Regions from separate parts of the Homo sapiens genome. Here region 1 is linked to region 2. A link means that fine-mapping ties the variant in region 2 to the expression of a gene that starts in the linked region. Tissue or cell type: lung. Region 2 holds a variant in brackets; the other region holds the start of a gene. All regions are shown on one strand. Distances are from middle to middle.

What was found. PIP is the estimated chance that this variant, and not a neighbour inherited with it, causes the effect.
Region 1: LINC00399 starts here. The variant in region 2 is the best candidate, but not a certain one, in a credible set for the expression of LINC00399 in lung (GTEx, PIP 0.59).

Annotation. Positions count from the first base shown.
Region 1 is chr13:109,395,463-109,405,720 of GRCh38, reverse strand. It overlaps LINC00399 (long intergenic non-protein coding RNA 399), which reads right to left and starts at 5,025. Exons shown (of 2, transcript NR_126361.1): 1 at 4,913-5,025; 2 at 4,080-4,380. LOC105370359 (a long non-coding RNA gene) reads left to right here and starts at 1,417. Exons shown (of 3, transcript XR_001750017.3): 1 at 1,417-2,770; 2 at 3,180-3,690; 3 at 4,832-7,288.
Region 2 is chr13:109,726,544-109,736,801 of GRCh38, reverse strand. LINC00676 (long intergenic non-protein coding RNA 676) reads right to left here and starts at 8,528. Exons shown (of 3, transcript NR_103846.1): 1 at 8,257-8,528; 2 at 7,610-7,769; 3 at 6,768-6,844. RefSeq lists an enhancer at 2,979-3,480. The variant C/T (reference allele first, on the strand shown) is at 4,804.

The DNA of each region.
Region 1 (10,258 bases), 330 kb after region 2:
AGAGTAAAACAGAATATCTTTATGACTTTGAGTAGAAAACTATTTATTAAATAGGATCCCCAAAACATGAATCTTTTACAAAAATGATAAATTGGACTGCATTAAAATGAATAAATTCAGTTCATCAAAATAGACCAGTAAGAGGGTGAAATGGCAATCAACAGAGCAGAACAAGATATTTGCAATTACCCATATTATACAAAAGACTTGTATCTGGAAGATATAAACAAGATCTACAAATCAGTAAGACATAGACAATTAAGTCAATGGAAAGATTGGTTTTAAAAAAAAACCATCAAGTCACATTACAAAAGATAATATCCACATAGCCATTAACCATATTGTTATGGGATGTTTGGGGTGTCGATTTTTCTGGCCAGAAACCTCTGTGGCCACAGCACCTTTACCCAAGCTCTTGTCCTGTGTCCAGGAAGAAGGAGTTATGCAGACAAGTGAAGGGTGCACAAGATGAAGATGAACTTTATTGAGTGTTAGAATAGCTCAGAGGAGACTTGCAGTGGGTAGCTCCTCTCTGCAGGCAGGCCATCTGTTGAGTGTTCAGTTCTCAGCAGAGAGGAGGCCCTGGAGAGGGTAGCTCCTCTCAACTAGTCCTCCAGATGTCTGCAGCTCTCAGCGGAGAGGAGGCCCTGGAGAGGGTGGCTTATCTCTGCCCACAGCAGTTCTCATCAGAGATGGTAGCTGCTCTCTGCAACTGGTTGTCACATCATCTCCAACTATCAGCAGAGAGGGTACTCCTCTCTGCAGCTGGTTGTCTCCTCTTCTTTCTGCCCTCTTGGTCCTCTGGCCATCCTCTGCCCTGCTCTGGCTGAGCCCAGGGCTTTTATGGACCTCAGAGGGGTGGAAATGCGTGCTGATTGGTCCATGGGCAGCCATGGGTGGGGCTGGAAGAGGCACCATGAGTCCCCACTCCAGCCTTCAGGCCCTCCCTAGCCTGAAGGGGGGCCTTCATGGGGACCTGCCCATTTCCATTCAGGAATCAATCTGCCTCCCACTGCCATTCATGGCCCTTGGGGCTTGGCCCCAATCCCTACTCTGAGATGGGAGCAGGCTCGTGGCACAAAGAGAGGCCAGGCAGTGGGGGAAGATACTCCTGAGACTGCAGGGACATGGGGGGTTCCTTCCTGAGGACCCCATGGGTACAGGCTGCAGAGATGCCTGGGTCCTGTGCCTGGGCTGCACCCAGGAGCTCCCTACCCCCACTGACTCTAAAGGGGCAGGGTTCCTGCTTGTTCCCAGCTCCTGCCTACTCTGTAGAGCAGGAGGCCTGGGTCTGCAGCTGCAGTTTGGGTGGCTGCAACAGCACCCAGGGAGTTCCCGCCCCAACTCAGAAGGGGCAGGGTCCACTGGCCCCATGGAGTGTGCAGCCCTAGCTGCGCCTCCCTGCTGCAACTGCTGTGATGGCCGCTGCCATCAATATGAAAAGGTGCATAACTTCATTTGTCATGAAGAAATTGCAAATTGAAATCACACTACAATCCCATTAGATACCCACCAGAAAGAGCAAAATGAACACAGGTGTCTGTAAAAATGTGGAGCAACTAGTACTCACCTGCATGGTTAGCAAGGGTGTAATGTGGTAGAATCATTTTGGAAAACTCTGAAAATCTTATTAAAGTGGAGCACTTGCATTAACTGGGCCCAGCTAGTCATGGCGGGAACAATCTCAATGCAGCATGTTCATACAGTGGAGCATGATGTAGCAAAGAGAAGGAAACATGATTGCCGCTTGCAGGAACACAGGAGAATCCTCATAAGCACAGTGTTGATGTAAATCAGCTACATGCCAAAGGGTACACACTGCACTGCACTCCACTTATATAAACTTCAGAAACAGGCAAACTATTTGTGGCATCAGAATTTATCTTTGCAGAGCCTGAAGCTTCTGGAAAGGGTGGTAATATTCTCCTCCTAGGTAGACCTGGGCACCGGCTACATCATGGGCTGACTCTGGGGCCTTGTCAAGCTGTAAAATTTTCATTTGTGCACTTTTTAAATGCATATTTCAATAAAAAGGCTTTTTCTTAAGTTTCTGGTGACAACTTCTTGGAGAAAAAATATTCCTGAATATACAAAACAGTGCGTGTTTATCATAAAAAAATGTGGAAAATAGAAGAAAGCTAAAATCATGTATAAGTCTGCCACTCTGTATTTTGATATAATCTTTTCCTGTGTTTTTCTATTTATACATTGGGTGTGTACATGTGAAACACAATGTCCACTATACAGCATATCAATTTTATAGCCTTCTTTAAAAACCACACAATGTGTCCAAAGCACTCTCTCTTGCCATTAACTATTCTTCAACACACTTCAAAAGGCTGTCTTCTCCAGACACAGCCCACTGCTGCATTTAGCTCACGGCCTCGGCCATATGTACTTTCATCTTACACCGCCTCAACGACACATCTGCTGAAGCCTGGAGCTGAAACTGAGCCATTAAAAAACAGATCAATTTAGACCTAACAGGATCTTACCAACGTATTTTGCAATGGGTGGCCCTGAACCCAGTGTTACTTAATGTTTTCATTGTTGGCCTGGGTTAGGAAACCCTACCAGCATCACCCACACAGAGAAGCAGCAGCCTTGCTTACATGCAGATGAGGGGCCATGCCCTGGTCTCAGTCTACCTGCCCGCTGGCAGTGTAGCATGACGGCAGTTGTGTGCACAAGACTCCAGGCTCAGGGGACCCAAGTCAAGGCACCAGCTCTGCAGCTGCCACATGTGTGGCTCTGGGCAAGGGCCCAAGAGGTAGGGACTCAGTTTCTCAGCAGTAAAATGAGAATAATAAGCCCCAGTGTGCAGCTCAATGTATGGGAAGTATTTACAATAGTACTGGGCAGAGTAGTCACCCTGTAATGATAGAGACCTTTGCAGAAGTAAATGGTAGGTGACTTCCTTGCTCACAAACCTTAGAGTGATCTCCTGCACATGGCTGGGGAGGAGTCTCCATGCCTGTGTGTCTAGCCCCATCTCTTACTGGTCTATAACTTCATACCTGTGCCCCGTCCACACACAACAGTTTGTAGATTCTTGAGGACAAAATGGCTCACACCTGTTTTCTACCTGGAAGCCACTTCTTCCTCATTGCGTAGCCCTGGTCTCTCATCCTCATTCATTTACCTGACTAATTTACACTCTTCTGTGTGCTTTCATCCAGATACGCTGTCTCTTCATAGAAACTTTCTCCAGTGCTCGCCTGCCCACAGACCTGGTTAGAGGCCCCGCTTTTTATGGCCCCCCGGACTTAACCACGTCACAGAAATCATCACATTGTGTTGAGCCTCCTGGGTTTCTTTGGACTGGAAGCTCCCTGAGGGCAGGGTTATCTTGTTCGTCCTTTCATCCCCAGGGCCTGGCATAAGACCTGGCGAAGAGCTGCTGCATGCTAAAGCTTTGCTAATTGAATGACTGTGTGTTATTTCTTAAATTCAATGAGAAATCACTCTACAAAGTCCAGGAGAATGAAAGTCTCAATAACCGAGCTTTCTCTCCCCTGAGCACCTACACAGGAAACTCAATTACAGTTGCAAGAGGCCTCGAAGACCTGCAGGATTTAGAAGAATCCAGGCATCTCCGGGCCCCTGGCTGGGGCTTCTGCATCTGACAATAGAGATGGCTTTGCTCAGGGGAAGAATACTTTGGGCTCTGACTCACTCCATGAGCACTGGGTAAGCAACGTCCACCTTGGTGGCTCTTGCTATAATTTGTCTGTGTGTTCAGACCCAGTCCTTCCCTCCCAAACTGCTGACAGCGGTTTTCTTCGGTTATGCTAATATCCCCCACTATGTTCAAGTTGAGTTTTGTAGACATGCCAGCTGCTCTGTTTCTTTACGTTGATTTTCTCGCTCTGCCCTAATATGTGCTCATTTCATAGGTGGACTCTCTACAATCAATCTTTTAATTTTTTAAATGTTCAAGTTATTGAGGGACACCTTCCTGAGAGGCGTCCATTGTAAACGACAGCTTATCACTGATATTATCATATGAAAGCTATTGTTGTAGGACTTTCTCTTTAGGGCCCATGTCACATGGCCATGAGAGATTAGGGTCACAGAGATTTTGAAGGGTGAGAAAAATGGAATTTATCGGGCCAAAAGGAAAAAAAGGGAAACAGGGACTCTCAGCAAAGCAACAGTCCTGCTAGCGGGTTTTCCCGCCTCAGCGATTGAATCTCAGGTACTATCCAGGATCAGGAGAGGCCAGGCTCCTCCCCTCTGCAAAGCGCGTGAACTTCCGTGGCTCCACCCCATTCTCCCAGGGCGCAGGCCGGTTGGGGTTTCCCCAGGGACCCTTTATACTTGGCTGTTCATTGTGGTGATATGGTTCCAAGCCTGAAGAACTTGCAATCTGATTAAGATCTGAATGCATGAATTAAAAAAAAAAAATTATGGTAATTTAACATAAGAAATAGTCTTGAAGCAAGGGGTTATCACAAGGGTGCTTATGACAGCGTTAGTTGTATTAGTAAAATATAGAAATAACCAATACTAGAATTTTTAAATTACAGTGAATTCTTTTGCTGCTACTGAAATTATGCTTTCAAAGATAATTAATGTTTCTAAGGATAGTTCATTTAGAGGGGAAAGTACAGAGCTCAAATTCCAAATAAAAGGTCATGATTTGAAATTACCGTGGGAGAAAATGATATAGATATGGGAAAAGAAAGTGTTTTCAAGGCAGCAAAGCTTTGTTTAAAGCTAATCACAGATAACTTCTACTTTTATTATCCTTATCAGGATTTATCTTGTATCATGAATAGTGAGCATTTGCCTCGCCTATTATATCTAATTCTGAGTTCTGTGGCTTAAGGTAGCGTCAAGCATTTGGAATGGATTCAGATAAGGGCCAGCCCGGCTGGTGCCAGAGCAGGGCACAGAGCCTGTTTCCTACCGATCCTGGATCCTGACAGTGCGACTCCGCGTGCGGCTTCTCCCTGCCATGGTCTTAGATTTCAACCTGTCTCAGTGTATGAAGAGCGAGAAGGATTCATTCCAGGTCTGTTTGTGAATCTTTTCTAAGAAGTGTTTCCTAGGCAACTTCTAGAAGGCATTAAACAATAATGGGTTTTAGTTTTTCAAGAAACCTTGGAGATCTAGGACATCCTGTCTTTACCAACGGAGACACCAAGGCACAGAGATTCCAGGGGATGTGACGGCAGAACCATTTCCTTGTTCTTGTCGGCTCGCCTTCTGCTGGCTGTGGCTTCCTTTGTGTCTAGCATGTAACCCTGCATGCCTATTCAGGATTAAGGGAGGCCAAGTTCTGCCTCCTGGCTGGTGAATGCCGGGAGGCCCAGGAGGAAGCAGTAGCTGGTGAGGGAAACGCGCAGCAGATTGACAGCTGGGCGGAGCAGGGCAGGCCTCCCGGAGCACATTTCTGCACAGAGAACTAGGAAGCAATAAAACAAACTTCACGGAAAGTGGATCTTATCCTAAAAATAGCAGGTTTAATGCTGACATGCCTACCTTTTGATGACTTACGTTTGTTTTTGCATAATTATGATTACTAATTTGAAAGCAGCTAGGAAATAATCTAATAAGGATGAAAATAATAAAAATACATTTAGAAACGTAAATTGACATAATATTATCATGTTTTAGTCAATTCAAATGAATATTTCCAAGGAATTCAGTTTATAATTACATTTAGGAAATAATAGTGCCCTAAACTTTTTTTTTTCTTTTCTTTTCTTTTTTTTTTTTTTTGAGACTGGGTCTCACTTTGTCACCCAGGCTGGGATGGAATGACATAATCATAGCTCACTGCAGCCTCGAATTCTGGGCCTCAAGAGAAACCCTCACCTCAGTCCCCTACCCCCAGTCCCCTACCCTCACTCCCCTACCTCCAGTCCCCTACCCCCAAGTAGCCAGACTACAGGCGCAGGCCATCACACCCTTCAATTTTTTTTTTTTTTTTTTTTTGAGACAGCGTTTTGCCATGTTCCCAGGCTGGTCTAAAACTCCTGAGATCAAGCAATTTGCCAGCCTCAGCCTCCCAAAATGCTGGAATTACAGGAGTGAGCTACCATATCTGGTACCCTAAACGTTTTTGATTGGCTAGGGGAGATAATACTGAGAGGTGAAGCCAGCTGGACTTCCTGGGTCGAGTAGGGGCTTGGAGAACTTTTCTGTCTAGCTAAAGGATTGTTAACACACCAATCAGCACTCTGTAAAATGGACCAATCAGCAGGACGTGGGTAGGGCCAAATAAGGGAATAAAAGCTGGCCACCAGAGCCACCAATGACCACCCGCGGGGGTCCCCTTCCACGCTGTGGAAGCTTTGTTCTTTCGCTCTTCACAATAAATCTTGCTGCTCTTTGGCTCTGCACCACCCTTAAGAGCTTTAACACTCACTGCGAAGGTCTGTGGCTTCACTCCTGAAGTCAGCAAGACCACGAACCCACCAGAAGGAAGAAACTCTGGACACATTTGAACATCTAAAGGAACAAACTCCAGACACACCATCTTTAAGAACTGTAACACTCACCACGAGGGTCTGCGGCTTCATTCTTGAAGTCAGCGAGACCAAGAACCCACTGGAAGGAACCAATTCAGGACACAATATGATGAATGGTTTTTAGTTGTTGTTGTTGTTGTTTAGTGATTTTTAAAATTATTATTGTAGTTTAAATTCTGGTATATATGTGCAGAACGTGCAGGTTTGATACATAGGTATACACATGCCATGGTGGTTTGCTGCACCTATCAACCTGTCATCTACATTAGGTATTTCTCCTAATGCTATTCTTCCCCTCAACAGGCCCAGGTGTGTGATGTCCCCCTCCCTGTTTCTATGTGTTCTCATTGTTCAACTCCCATTTATGAGTGAGAACATGCAGTGTTTGGTTTTCTGTTCCTGTGTTAGTTTGCTGAGAATGATGGTTTCCAGCTTCATCCATGTCCCTGCAAAAGACATAAACTCATCCGTTTTTATGGCTGCATAGTATTCCATGGTGTTAAAGACTTAAACATAAGACCTCAAACCACCATAAAAAGCCTAGAAGAAAACCTAGGCAATATCTTTCAGGACATAGGCATGGGCAAAGACTTCATGATTAAAACACCAAAAGTAATGGCAACAAAAGCCAAAATTGACAAGTGGGATCTAATTAAACTAAAGAGCTTCTGCACAGCAAAAAGAACTATTGTCAGAGTGAACAGGCAACCTACAGAATGGGAGAAAATTTGTGCAATCTATCCATCTAACAAACGGCTAATATCCAGAATCTACAAGGAACTTAAACAAATTTACAAGAAAAAAAAAAACAACCCCATCAAAAAGTGGACAAAGGATATGAACAGACACTTCTCTAAAGAAGACATTTATGTGGCCAACAAACATGAAAAAAAGCTCTTCATCACTGGTCGTTAGAGAAATGCAAATCAAAACCACAATGAGATACCGTCTCACCAGTTAGAATGGCGCAAGTTAGAATGGCGATCATTAAAAAGTCAGGAAACAACAGATGCTGGAAAGGATGTGGAGAAATAGGAACGTGTTGATGCTGTTGGTGGGAATGTAAATTAGTTCAACCATTGTGGAAGACAGTATGATGATTGTTAAGACAATTCTACTAAAGGAAAACTATCTCTGCTTTGCATTAAATATCTTGCATTTGCTGTTTTTCCTTAAGATTTCTTAAATCAAATTGTACATCATAAAACAGGTCTAATAATCGGCTGGGCGGGGTGGCTCACACTGTAATCCCAGCAGCACTTTGGGAGGCCAAGGTGGGCTGATCAGCTGAGGTCAGACCAGCTTAGCCAACATGGTGAAACCGCACCTCTACTAAAAACACAAAAAAATTAGCCAGTGTGGTGGTGCATGCCTGTAATCCCAGCTACTCAGGAGACTGAGGCAGGAGAATAGCTTGAACCCAGGAGGCAGAGGTTGCAGTGAGCTGAGATTGCACCATTGCACTCCAGCCTGGGCAACAGACTGAGACTCAGTCTAAAAAACAAAACAGAACAAAACAAAAAAACCAGGCATAATAGTACTCTCCCACATTCCCCGTATTCTTTGACTGCTGACAAAATAAAACACACTGTCAGTTCTCTGACCTTCAAAAGTCAGGTGTGGATATTGGGTGAAATTGAATGTCACGTTACTTGTGGGAGAAAATTGCTATTTTCTTAAAGGAAACTTGGCCAGGGCCTCTGTCCTGTCCTTCCCTGACTCAGCTGATTGCAGCTTGCAGGACTCCTCCCCGCAGTGCTTCTACCAGGACAATGACACCAGGTACCTTGTTGCTCACTTCCCTTTCTCCACACTTGTTTTTGAGGAGTTCAGGTGACCAATATTTCCCAGGGCTCCAAGAAAGCAATACAGGTGTAACTTCACCTTTGCCATTGCCGTGAAAGGACTATGTGCTCACCTGCATATCAAGTGGAATGGGCCCATATGGATTTAGCTTAGCCCATCCAGATTTTTAAAAATACCTGTTAAGTGTTTGCCTTTCTTCTATTTTCATATTTAAGGAGCCGAAGAATCAATAGAGCTGAGGGCAGCAAGATGGAATTATAACTCATCCACCCCCCTTTACTGTACTCAAGATATAATATTCCTTGACCCCTCTACATCTGCTTTGCAATTTTCTATCCTTGATCATCAATGCCTTCTTTAGGTGGCTTCCCCTCCTGTCACTCTATGATCCTTATCTTTGTAAACTGTCTGTTGTTTTATAACTGAGTTGACTTTAGTGAATAATCAGAAAACAAGTTGCCGGTTAATATATTCTTAGGATAAACTGAAGATTATGCCTGGAGAGGCTTGTCCATGGTGCAGCTGAGACGTCTCCTATCTTCTTTTCTGTCTTTTTTTTTTTTTTTTTTTTTTTTGAGACAGAGTCTCGCTGTGTCACCCAGGCTGGAGTGCAGTGGTGCGATCTTGGCTCACTGCAAGCTCTGCCTCCCAGGTTCACGCCATTCTCCTGCCTCAGCCTGCCGAATAGCTGGGACTATAGGCACCTGCCACCACGCCCGGCTAATTTTTTGTATTTTTTTTTAGTAGAGACGGGGTTTCACCGTGTTAGCCAGGATGGTCTCGATCTCCTGACCTCATGATACACCCGCCTCGGCCTCCCAAAGTGCTGGGATTACATACAGGCCTGAGCCACCGCGCCTGGCCGTCTCCTATCTTCTTGTCTGTGTATATGTGTGAATCCTTCACGCCGAGACAGAGTTGTATGAATGAATCATTCTGAACCTGATGTTCTTTCTACAATGTGGATACATGCAATTGTTTGTTTGCCCTCCTGCCCTGTGGTCACAGCAGTGGCCTATTTACAGGGATGTTTACTGTTCTAGAGACTGGCTGTTTCCTACGCTTATGTTTTTACTCCATCTTTTTCAGTGAGCTTAAGTTTGTTTACTACATACTAGTATGTTCCTCTACTAGTCATTGTGACAGTGTTTCAAAATGTTTCAGCATATCCTTGTGTCTTTCTTTTCTCTGTTCATCTTGTTTCTAATTTCCTTTCCAGAACTTTCCATGGTGTCCAGGACAATCCTGGTTTTCTATCTGTTGTCCTGTTGTCATTATCAATAGTAGCCAATTTCACCCTGAAAGTAACTGTGTTGAAATGAAAATTATATTTGCCTATTTACCCATAAAGTAATCACTGCTCTAAGATTTTATACCCACTTTCTGAGAAACTTTATTCCAGGAAAAGACTAATTAGATAGGTCAATTAATGTAGATCAACTTGCTCCTGTCATGTTTGAAATCATAAAACAAGGCCTAAGTCCATTTGGGTGCTATAACAAAATCCCATAAGCTGGGTCGTTTCTAACAACAGAAATTGGTTCCTCACAGCTCTGGAGTTTGGGAAATCCAGGAGAAAATCACCGACAGACTCGGTGTCTGGTGAGAGCCCGCTTCCTGGTTCCTAGAGGGCCGTCTTCTCACTGTGTCTTTACATGGTGGAAGAGGCAAGTGAGCTCTGTTGGGCCTCTTTCATAAGCTCATGAACCCCATTCATGAGACCTCCTCCCTCATGGCCTAATCACTTTCCACAGGTGCCACCTCCAAGTAACATCACCTGGAGGATGGCATTTCAACATAGGAGATTTCATGACGTGTTTGCTTCTGCAGCACGTGTTCTAAAATTGGAATGAGATTTCATTAGCCCTCCTCCCTCATGACCTAATCACCCCCCACAGGCTCCACCTCCATATAACATCACCTTGGGGATGGGGTTTGGGGCAGGGGAACATGAGCATTGAGCCCATTGCAGG
Region 2 (10,258 bases):
TCAACATGTCCAGAATGGATCAGTGTCTTCCCTGAAAACCAATTCCATCTCTTGACCATTTTCTCTAAGTCACTGGGGCTAAAATTTAGAGGGCCACTTATTTCTGACAGCTCCCTCCCCACATCCTTGGGCCCTCCCCACATCCAATCAACTCCTGTCTGAAATGTGACTTGTAACCGCCCCTCCCTTGCCATTCCCACTGATAGCACTTTACTTATTACTTGTTACTTCTTGCTGGGCCACAGAAACGGCTGGACTCACCTTCCTGTCTCTGGTTTATGTGCCATTCAGAGAAACTCTGAGACATCACCTGACGAATCATTGTGATGCTCAGCTTGCAGGATCCCACTTCTCTACTCAGGGACCCCCAGTACTTCCCCGTTCTTACTGAATAAAGTCCAAATTCTACACTTCAGTGTTCTAGCCCCTTATCACGTGGGCGGTGAAACCTTTGGCTGCATCTCGGACAGCTCATGGGCAGGTCCCCTCTGCTGTCACACCCAGAGTTAGGAAGGCCTCAAATTCACTCCCTGCACACTTGCTTCCCTGTCTCCTGGCAAACTGCTTTCTCTTTGTTCTTAACTCTGCCTGGGAAAATCTTCCCCATCCTTGAAGGCCTTTCTCCACTGTTACCCCTGCATGAAGACCTCACTGACCCCCCAAAAAGTGTTTGACCCAGAACACTTTGGCTTTTGCTTATAATATTTACCTCTGACTTGGGGCACGTGTTTCATTCTCTATTTGAGTGTATGCTCTTTGAGGGTAGGAATGAGTGACTGTCTGGCCTACCCTGAATCTTGACTCTCATGAATCAAGTTTTATAAATTGACTCAAAATAATAAGTTAGAGTTACAAGAATAAGGTGGTAACGGTGGTTTTATAATTCAGAAATAATCCTTTTAAAAATGTAAAAAATACTCTAAAAAAGTCAGCTGTAGAGGTTTGCTCGTGGTTGCCAAGGAGCAAAGACTTTCAGAGAGCTTAACTCCAGTGGGTTTGAGCCTCTTTCTGATTAAAGCATCAGTGCCAATAGCATTGGATCCCTCCAAGAATGTGGTGTTTGGGACTTTACCATCATTTGTTTGTGGAATTGTGTGTAGGTCTGAAAATTCAGGCCTGTGGGGAACTAACTTTGAATTTTGATAAATGACTTTCGTGGTCAGTTCGGGTCACCCAGCTACACTCTGTTGTGTATATTTTGGCACATCTGCTCTTGAAAGATATGATTATATGTAACTCCAACAAATATATCAAAAGTGTGTTTTAATTTTTTTGCCTTTTAGATTTAATGAACCAGTTCCTAAGAGAACCCTACATGTTTCTTTAGAAGACCTAACCAATTGATACTGCATTATGACAAACCCTCTACCAGAATTTCCTCATTCATTCAAAATTATGTTTAAACCCATAATGTCCACATTCTTTTTTTTTTTAACATGAGGAGACATCATAAGAAATGAAACAACAGTTTGAGTCAGGGCAACAGAGTCCAAGTTTCCTTCCAAGAGGCCAAGTTGTTTTAGCAGAAAAGGACATTGGCGCCAAAACCCACACTAGGTCCACCGGCAGCAAACACAGAATGGTGCCCTCACTCTAGGAAGCTGGCTGTTCCATATTTTTATACTAGATTTAAGGTTCAAAATTTCATGTTGGTGTTCATAAATGCAAACACACAAGCCAGCAAAGAAAAAGGAGAGTTATTTAGTTTATATTTTCTTCTCCCATCCTTTCTCTCTCTCTTTCTATGCAAATGTTTCAATCACATAGGTTTGACCAAATAGCTGCGTCTTACACCATTCTCCTCTATGTAAAGATGTAAAGCAACTCTGCACTTTTTTTTTTTTTTTTTTTAAGACAAAGTCTCACTCTGTGGCTCAGGTTGGAGTGCAGTGGCACAATTTCGGCTCACTGAAACCTCTGCGTCTTGGGTTCAAGCGATTCTCCTGCCTCAGCCTCCCGAGTAGCTGGGATTACAGGTGTGTGCCACCACACCTAATTTTTGTATTTTTATTAGTCAGGGGGTTCACCATGTTGGCCAGGCTGGTCTTGAACTCCTGACCTCAGGTGACCTGCCTGCCTCAGCCTCCCAAAGTGCTGGGATTACAGGCCTGAGCCACCCCGACCGGCCATGCACTTGGTTTTGAGAGCAGCACAGTGGCGGTCTGTTCTCCCTGCCCGCCTGCTCCAGGGAGAGGAGTTGCTTGCTCCCTTACAGCCCTCACCTCCCATGGGACCCTGCAGGTGCTGAGGGCTCAGGCGCAGCTGCTGCCAGTCGTCACAGCCATCTCATCCATTCCAGAGTTGTAAATAGGCTGATGATTCCGTTTTTTGTTCCCAGAGCTGTATATCCAGTGGCCTCCTGGAGTCACCTACTGGGATGGCTGATGATCTCCAAAAGTGTCAACACTGTCCCAAACTGAGCACCCCGCCCCACAGCAGAGCCCTGCCCCAGCGCCTCCTGTTCTGGCTCTATGGCAATTCCCTCTTCCCAGCGGCCGCAGCAAGAGTCGGGTCCCCTGCGCCCTGGCCCAGCCCCTGCCGCCCCTGCCTGGCCTGGATGTTGGCAATGGTGGTTTCCCAGTGCCCTGCCCCCACCCTTTCCCTTACCCCTTTCAGCCCGTTCCTTACTAAGAAGCCACCGCAATGTTGGTGAGAAAGTGGGTCAGATGTGCCACAGCCTTAGGCCGCTTCAAAGTCTAACCACGTCCTGAAAACCTTCTGGTTTGGTTCCCAGCTCCTGCTCCGATCTCGCCTCTATTTGAAAACCACCATCCCCACATCGGCCACCTCTCAGTCACCCCATCCTCTGGCTCACCCCCGAGACCGCTGCCAATTGGGGGGACCCGTCCATAGCACGGATGGCGCTGCTTCCGGCACCTGCGCCGCCCGAGGGTCTCCTGGCCATGGCCTGGGGGTGCCACGCAGCCGTGGCCACCGCATCCTCCCTCAGTGCTCCCCACGGCTCTCAATGCGCTCCCCAAGTGCTGACCACGCGCGCCCCCACGGCTCCCCGACAGCTCCGCCACGCCCTCCCCACGGCTCTCCACGCTCTCCCCAAGTCCCCAACGGCTCCCCCAAGCGCTGCCCACGCTCCCCCACGACTCCCCCACTCCCTCTCCACGTGCTCCCCACGTGCTCAGAGGAGCCTGGACAGGTGGATCCGGGTTGCCCCGGGGACTCATTCAGGGGTGAGCACACCTTGTACTTTTCCCTCGTTGTTTCCCTCCTTCCCCTCCTGGAAATGCCTCCTGCGGAAACCACTCAAACCCTTGTCTCAGGACCATGGCAGGGGTCTCCTTTCTTACAGGGCTGGCTGCTTCCTCAGTCAAGGCTTCTTTGGCTATTTACTTATCTAAAATGAAAACTCCAGCCATATTCTCAGTATTTCATAGCCTCCTTTTCCATGTTGTTCTCATTCTTTAAAGTACTACCTATTTCACCTACTTGTAGTGTTCTCTGTATCCCTCTCCTACCAGAATGTGACATGGACGGTAATGTCAGCCTTCTTCACTCCTGGTTAAGCAGACTTGAGAAAAGGGCCTGGCATACAGTAGGCATTCAGTAAATGCTTTGTGACTCTGTCGAGAGGTGACAGCATGCTGGCAGCCCTCACAGGCCTTGCTCGCTCTCGGTGCCTCCTCGGCCTCGGCGCCCATTCTGGCCGCGCTTGAGGAGCGCTTCAGCCCGCCGCTGCACTGTGGGAGCCCCCTCCTGGGATGGCTGAGGCAGGAGCCGGCTCCCTCAGCCTGCGGGGAGGTGTGGAGGGAGAGGCACGGGCGGGAACCAGGGCTGGGAGCGGCGCTTGCGGGCCAGCTAGAGTTCCGGGTGGGCGTGGGCTTGGCGGGCCCCGCACTCGGAGCGGCCGGGCAGTGAGGGGCTTAGCACCCGAGCCAGCAGCTGCGGAGGGTGCGCCAGGTCCCCCAGCAGTGCCGGCCCACCGGCGCTGCGCTCGATTTCTCGCCGGGCCTTAGCTGCCTCCCCGCAGGGCAGGGCTCGGGACCTGCAGCCCGCCATGCCTGAGCCTGCCCCCGCACCCCCGCCGTGGGCTCCTGGCGGCCCGAGCCTCCCCTATGAGCGCCGCCCCCTGCTCCACGGCGCCCAGTCCCAACAACCGCCCAAGGGCTGAGGAGTGCGGGCGCACAGCGTGGGACTGGCAGACAGCTCCACCTGCAGCCCCCGGGCGGGATCCACTGAGTGAAGCCAGCTGGGCTCTTGAGTCTGGTGGGGACTTGGAGAATCTTTATGTCTAGCTAAGGGATTGTAAATACACCAATCAGCACTCTGTATCTAGCTCAAGGTTTGTAAATGCACCAATCAGCACTCTGTGTCTAGCTGATCTGGTGGGGACTTGGAGAACATTTATGTCTAGCTAAGGGATTGTGAATACACCAATCAGCACTCTGTATCTAGCTCAAGGTTTGTAAATGCACCAATCAGCACCCTGTGTCTAGCTAATCTGGTGGGGACTTGGAGAACCTTTGTGTCTAGCTCAGGATTGTAAACGCACCAATCAGCACCCTGTCAAAACAGACCAATCAGCTCTCTGTAAAACAGACCAATCAGCTCTCTGTAAAATGGGCCAATCAGCAGGATGTGGGTGGAGCCAGATAAGGGAAGAAAAGCAGGCTCTCCGAGCTAGCGGTGGCAATCTGTTAGGGTTTGTGTCTGTCGTGTGGAAGCTTTGTTCATTCGTCTTTTGCAATAAATCTTGCTACTGCTCAGTCTTTGGGTCCACACTGCTTTTATGAGCTGTAGCAGTCACCACGAAGGTCTGCAGCTGCACTCCTGAGGCTAGCGAGACCA[C/T]GAACCCACCGGGAGGAGCGAACGACTCCAGACGCGCTGACTTAAGAGCTGTAACAGCTTACCGCTAAGGTCTGCAGCTTCACTCCTGAGCCAGAGAGACCAGGAACCCACCTAGAAGGAACAAACTCCGGACATGCCGCCTTTAAGAGCTGTAACACTCACCGCCAGGGTCCGCAGCTGCATTCTTGAAGTCAGTGAGACCAAGAACCCACCAATTCCAGACACACTGTCATCAAAAAGTGGGATATCTTTTTAAACAGAGATAACATTGCAGAATCTTGGAGTTGGAAATAGACCTCAGCTGGGGTTTAGTCCTGTTTTCTCCTCAGAGCAGAAGTCCTGGGATGCCGTTCTGGACTGATTGTCAGTTTTTTCTCCTGTCCTTGAGCTATTCTAATGCCAGACATCTGTGGCTTTACACAGCCAGGCTTTCAGTTAGAGAACTTGGTTAGCTCAGGTCAACAAATGCTGCTCTGAGAACACTGACTCCCATGTGGGGAGACTCTGCACCTGGAGCTCCGGGAGAGCCGGCTCAGGCCTCTTCCTGCTATCCAGGGAACTGCAGTGGCGTTGGAGGGCCTTGCTGGGGCTGGGGCTGGGGAGAAGGGATTCCAACCCTACTGATAATTCGTTTGGAAACACCGGGCTGTGGATTTCAGAAGTTCTTGGGCAGCCTGATTACCACTGGCAGTGAGCCGGGGACGAAGCCGAAGCTATGAGTGACAGACGGAAAGAACTGGGGGCTTTGGTGAACCAGAGAACACTTAGCTCCTCCAGCCCTGAAGCAGGCGTCACCGCAGGGCTTATGGTCCTAAGAGCCACTTAGTTTCCTTATTCATTAAACTAGTTTAATTTGGGTTTTCTGCATCCTGGAGGACACCAAGTCGGTGTGCGGAGGGACCCTGTAGACACGTGTGCAAAGAATAAGCCGACGATCATGGAATTTCTGATGACGCCACTGACACGTGGGATGGAGGCCTCCTTCCCAGGGCACCCCTACACTCATGACAATGAATCCTGGCTCTTATTCACCCCTTTGGATTTCACAAGCAAGTAGTAAGTAGAAAAATAGTTTCATTTTATTTTCAGTACATCAACTGAATGTGCTAATACTTGTATCCACTTCCACATGTAAGAACTCTGTTACATAAATTTGAGAATAATCTGCTCTTTGCTATTTTGACTTTATTTTCACTGCAGATTACCAATTGTCCCTACAATTTGCGTTTTATAGTTTACATCATCGTACACTTGATTTTATAGGGAACAAAAGGTTCTCAATAATTACAAAGAAATGTGTTGATTTAACATACTCCAAGAATCTCATGAACACAGTCCAAATAATAATTCAAAATTGAAGGTGGTATATTGGGCTAAAGTGTCCAGCAACTAAGGAACTAACGATGACTTAACTTTTATTGTCTTGGGTCACAGACACATAAAATTGACTAGAAAATTAATCCTGGTATATCTTTTGTATCTTCAACATCACTATGAATATTCTACTTTTTAAGTGACATGGAAACATTCAAATTGAGACATGGAGTCTGAGAGTGACACGGGCTGCTGGAGTCCACACCCTGTTGACCAAATCCACACCTTTGGTGGCCAGCTCCGTTTTGGTTTTCAAACTTTAAGCTCCATTGTATCCCCAAAATATATGAATGAAAACAAATCAATTTATTTATTTTCATTTTAGTTATTTATTTGAGACAGGGTCTTGCTCTGTCGCCCAGGCTGGAGTGGGTTGTTGTGATCTCGCCTCATTGCAACTTCCATCTCCTGGGTTTAAGCGATTCTCCTGCCTCAGCCTCCTGAGTAGCTGAGATTACAGGCACGGACCACCTTGCCCGGCTAATTTTTGTACTTTAGTAGAGAGAGGGTTTTGCAATGTTGGCCAGGCTTGTCTGGAACTCCTGACCTCAAGTAATCCTCCTGCCTCAGCCTCCTAAAGTGCTGGGATTACAGGCGTGAGCCACCACACCCGGCCCAAGTCAACGTATTTATAATATGTGAATTGTTTGCACACCTATTTCAAGCACTGGAAAAGAAAAAAAAGAAAAGAAACAGGTCCATGAATGAGGTAAGCAGAGTTGGACCCAAATACTTCAATGCCTTCTCAACAATTTCTTCTAAATGGCTTCCCGAAATTAGCTCTGCACGACCTATCTTTCTTGGGGGGTGGGGAAGCGATTACTTTTTAAAAGCCACATTAAAGTGTGTGTTCTATATCACGATGGCAGTTAAGGGAGGGGAGGCGTCTACAGCTGACCTGGGGAAGTTTTAATCATTGAACTATGCACAAGTGGGGCCGGGGCGGGAAGCGGCAGGAAAATGAGGCACCTTCTGCAGAACCTAGCCAGCCTGCAGGCGTTCCTGATCTGAGGAAAACACTTTAATTAATATGTAAAACAGCAGTGGGGAGAAAAGCAAGGTTAATTTCCAAACCACATCACTACCAGCGGTATTTGGGTTATGAAACCTTGGGAAACTTCTAGGAGATCCTGTTTGAAGGCACAGAGGTGCTTTTGTGTGTGAGTAGCTTCTGAGATGCTCAAAAGCTCTTTTATCTGCCCCCTGCAGTGGTATTGCTCTTTCTGTGTTTAAAAACACTGCCTTTGACTGGCAGGCTTTTGTTTTTAATTTGCAGTGCATCCTCCATTTTTGTTTGGAACTTGCCTGAAAGCAGCGTTTAGGGGAGAGAGAGCTGTTTGATTTCCTTTGTTGCGGCTTTCTTAGCTGCTGGCTACCTTTGGAATGTGTGACACAGGCGTCTCTCCTGGTTAGGAAAATGTTCTGTACTTGCCTGGGGTGAGACTGTAGCTCATTTCCTGGGTTGAGATCTAAAATCCTGAGCAGAGTTAAGTGTATCAAATAGTGGCTGTGCCAAGGATCAGTGTCTGGTGGAGACAGCGGATTTTCCAAGGTCATGGAAGTGAAGAAACAGCTGACAAGTCTTTCCCTAGCTTGAGCAGAAACAGCTCCATTCAGTGCGTGAACAATTAACTCAATTAGAGAATGTGCAGCTTTCTAAAGACGCGTCCACTGTGAGTGCGTGTGCCTGCGTTTCCTGCCTCCCTCTCCTCACAGACACCTCAAAAGCAACATATCTGAAAAGTCCTCTTAGCTACCCTGTCTAGGAGAAGTCAGAGGCTTGAGGACGATACTGTGTTCCTCCCACCGCTTGGTATCCCACCAACACCCGCTCCTGGCCATTAGACACTCAAGCATCTTTCAAGTAGGGAGATGACTTTTTTGGGGGTCATAGACTCCTTTGAGAATTAAAGTTTACCCCAGGAGGAAAATAATATCTGCACATACCAAGATCAGCACACACTTTCAGGGGTTTTCCCATACCTACTTTAAGCCCAATTAGGATTTCTGTACTAAAATCAATCCCTCTGTCCCATTTCCTCTGCCACAGCCGTATGTGCAGCCCCACGCGTTACTTACATCTAGCCTGGAGGGTTAACTTTGACTTCCCAGCTTCTGGCACAATTTCCTTCTCCATCGCAGGCCGGAGTGGTCTCCACATTCCCCAAGGGCTCACCCATGACCTTTAGAAGAAAGTCCAAGCACTAGCTTGGCACTCAAAGTCTAAGGAATTCTTCATCCCGTGCTCCAGGCACATGAAATGCCTGTGTTTTCGTGAGCAAACGTTTCTCCTGTGGCCTTCCAGTTTCTCCCAGTACATCCTGTGGACTATCGTGGAGGATTTGCATTGCAGTGTGTGCCTCTCAGGTCCATGTTGGAGTGCCCTGCGTCCGCCTCCCTCTGCGCGGTCCACTCAGCTGGGTGGCGTCACTGGTGACTGGGCTTCTGCCTCCTTCCTTTCACTGGGAGACTCCTCAGTCAGAGTCTGGGTCTTCATCTCTAAACCCCCCGGGGCAGCAGCAGTCCCTGATTTTGACATAGGAGATTAGGACTGCAGCTTGTAGGGAGGTGGTGATCCACGGAGGGGCTTCTTCTGAAGCTGACTTTTGTAGCAAGCACAGTGTTCCAACTTACATTAAATACACGTGGGGTGGCTTGATATGACGATGGAGAAGATCCCACATTGCACAAGGTGGGAGCTAAAGCCCCAGTCCTCGCCCTGCAGCTGTAGTACACAGCTTCACAGTTACGTGCACTGCCACATGTATGTAATAATCTGGTATGTAACAGGTGCTTGTTGAATATTTGTTGGATGAATAGATGAGTGACCCTAGAAAAACACAATGCAGACCTATGGGTAGAAGAAGAAAAGAACCTGGAGTTTCCTGGAAGTTAGGGGTTCCAGCCCACCTCTGTCCACAGCCATGTGATCTCACACACACACACACACACACACACACCTACACCTGCACCCATGAGCCTCCCCACTTTGTCAGGGATCATGATTCACAGGTTATGCTGCATCTCCTAACTTTTCCATTTCTTTGCACTCACTTTTTCACTCCATTTATAGGCACACAGCAACCCCGTCTCCTGCAATGACCCCTGCTCCAGGCCTCACATAAACCACCTGCTATCTGTACTCGGCAGCCCTGGTCCGAAGGCAAACACAGTCCTGGTTGCCCCACCTGACGCAATTGCTCCTAGCATTTCTTATTCACTCTCCAGCTTTCGCTTGGCTCTACCCTCTGCTGAAACAGCTAACCCTCTTGCCTGGCAGAGTCAAGGAAATTTTTGAGTCCAGGGCCTTCAACCTTGTGTCTTCAGGAGCCTCTGCAAAGCTGGGTGCCATGTAGGTGGGCTCTCTCCTTCCACTCCCTGTCGTCTTCATTCTCTAGCCCTCCGTATCACCCTTCTGGGCAATTCTTTCTCAGCTCACTTAGCGAATGTAAGGAAGTGTTTCATTTTCAGTCTTTCAAATCTTTTTTCAAATACTTCGTATTCAATCATTTCCTCTTCTTGGATAGAGTTTTGTGTTTTAAGTACAGTGTTATCCAATGGCTAGATCCGCACCTCTAGCCAGCTCACCACTCTGTGGCCCAGACTCTCTTTGCCAACTGTTTAACTCTCGTGTATAAATGACAGGCAGCTGCATATGTCCATATGTCCAGCTGTCTGTTCTGCAGTGGGTCACTTATGGGATCAGATTGTACATCTGCCTGTTTCACTTCAAATTGCCTCTTCTTTGCAAGCATCCAGGGGTGTCTTGCCTCACATACAAACAAACACAGAACAAAACTAAAAACCTCAAAGGAATTTCTGTGTTGAAGAGGTTTTAATGGTAAAATAATTAAGTTTACTTGCGATTAAAAAATAATTGTAAATTTTTATTAAAAAACCCTCAAAACTATCTTGCTGTATTTTTCTTTTATTATAATCAAAGTTTAGGCAAGAAGAGGGGTATCTATTGGCTCATGAAGTTTAACAGTTCCCTGGATTGACCTAGAACAGTGCTTTTCAAAATAAGCATCAGGCCCATCTAGAGAGCTTGGAAAGAGATCTCACTGAGTCAGCTCCATCT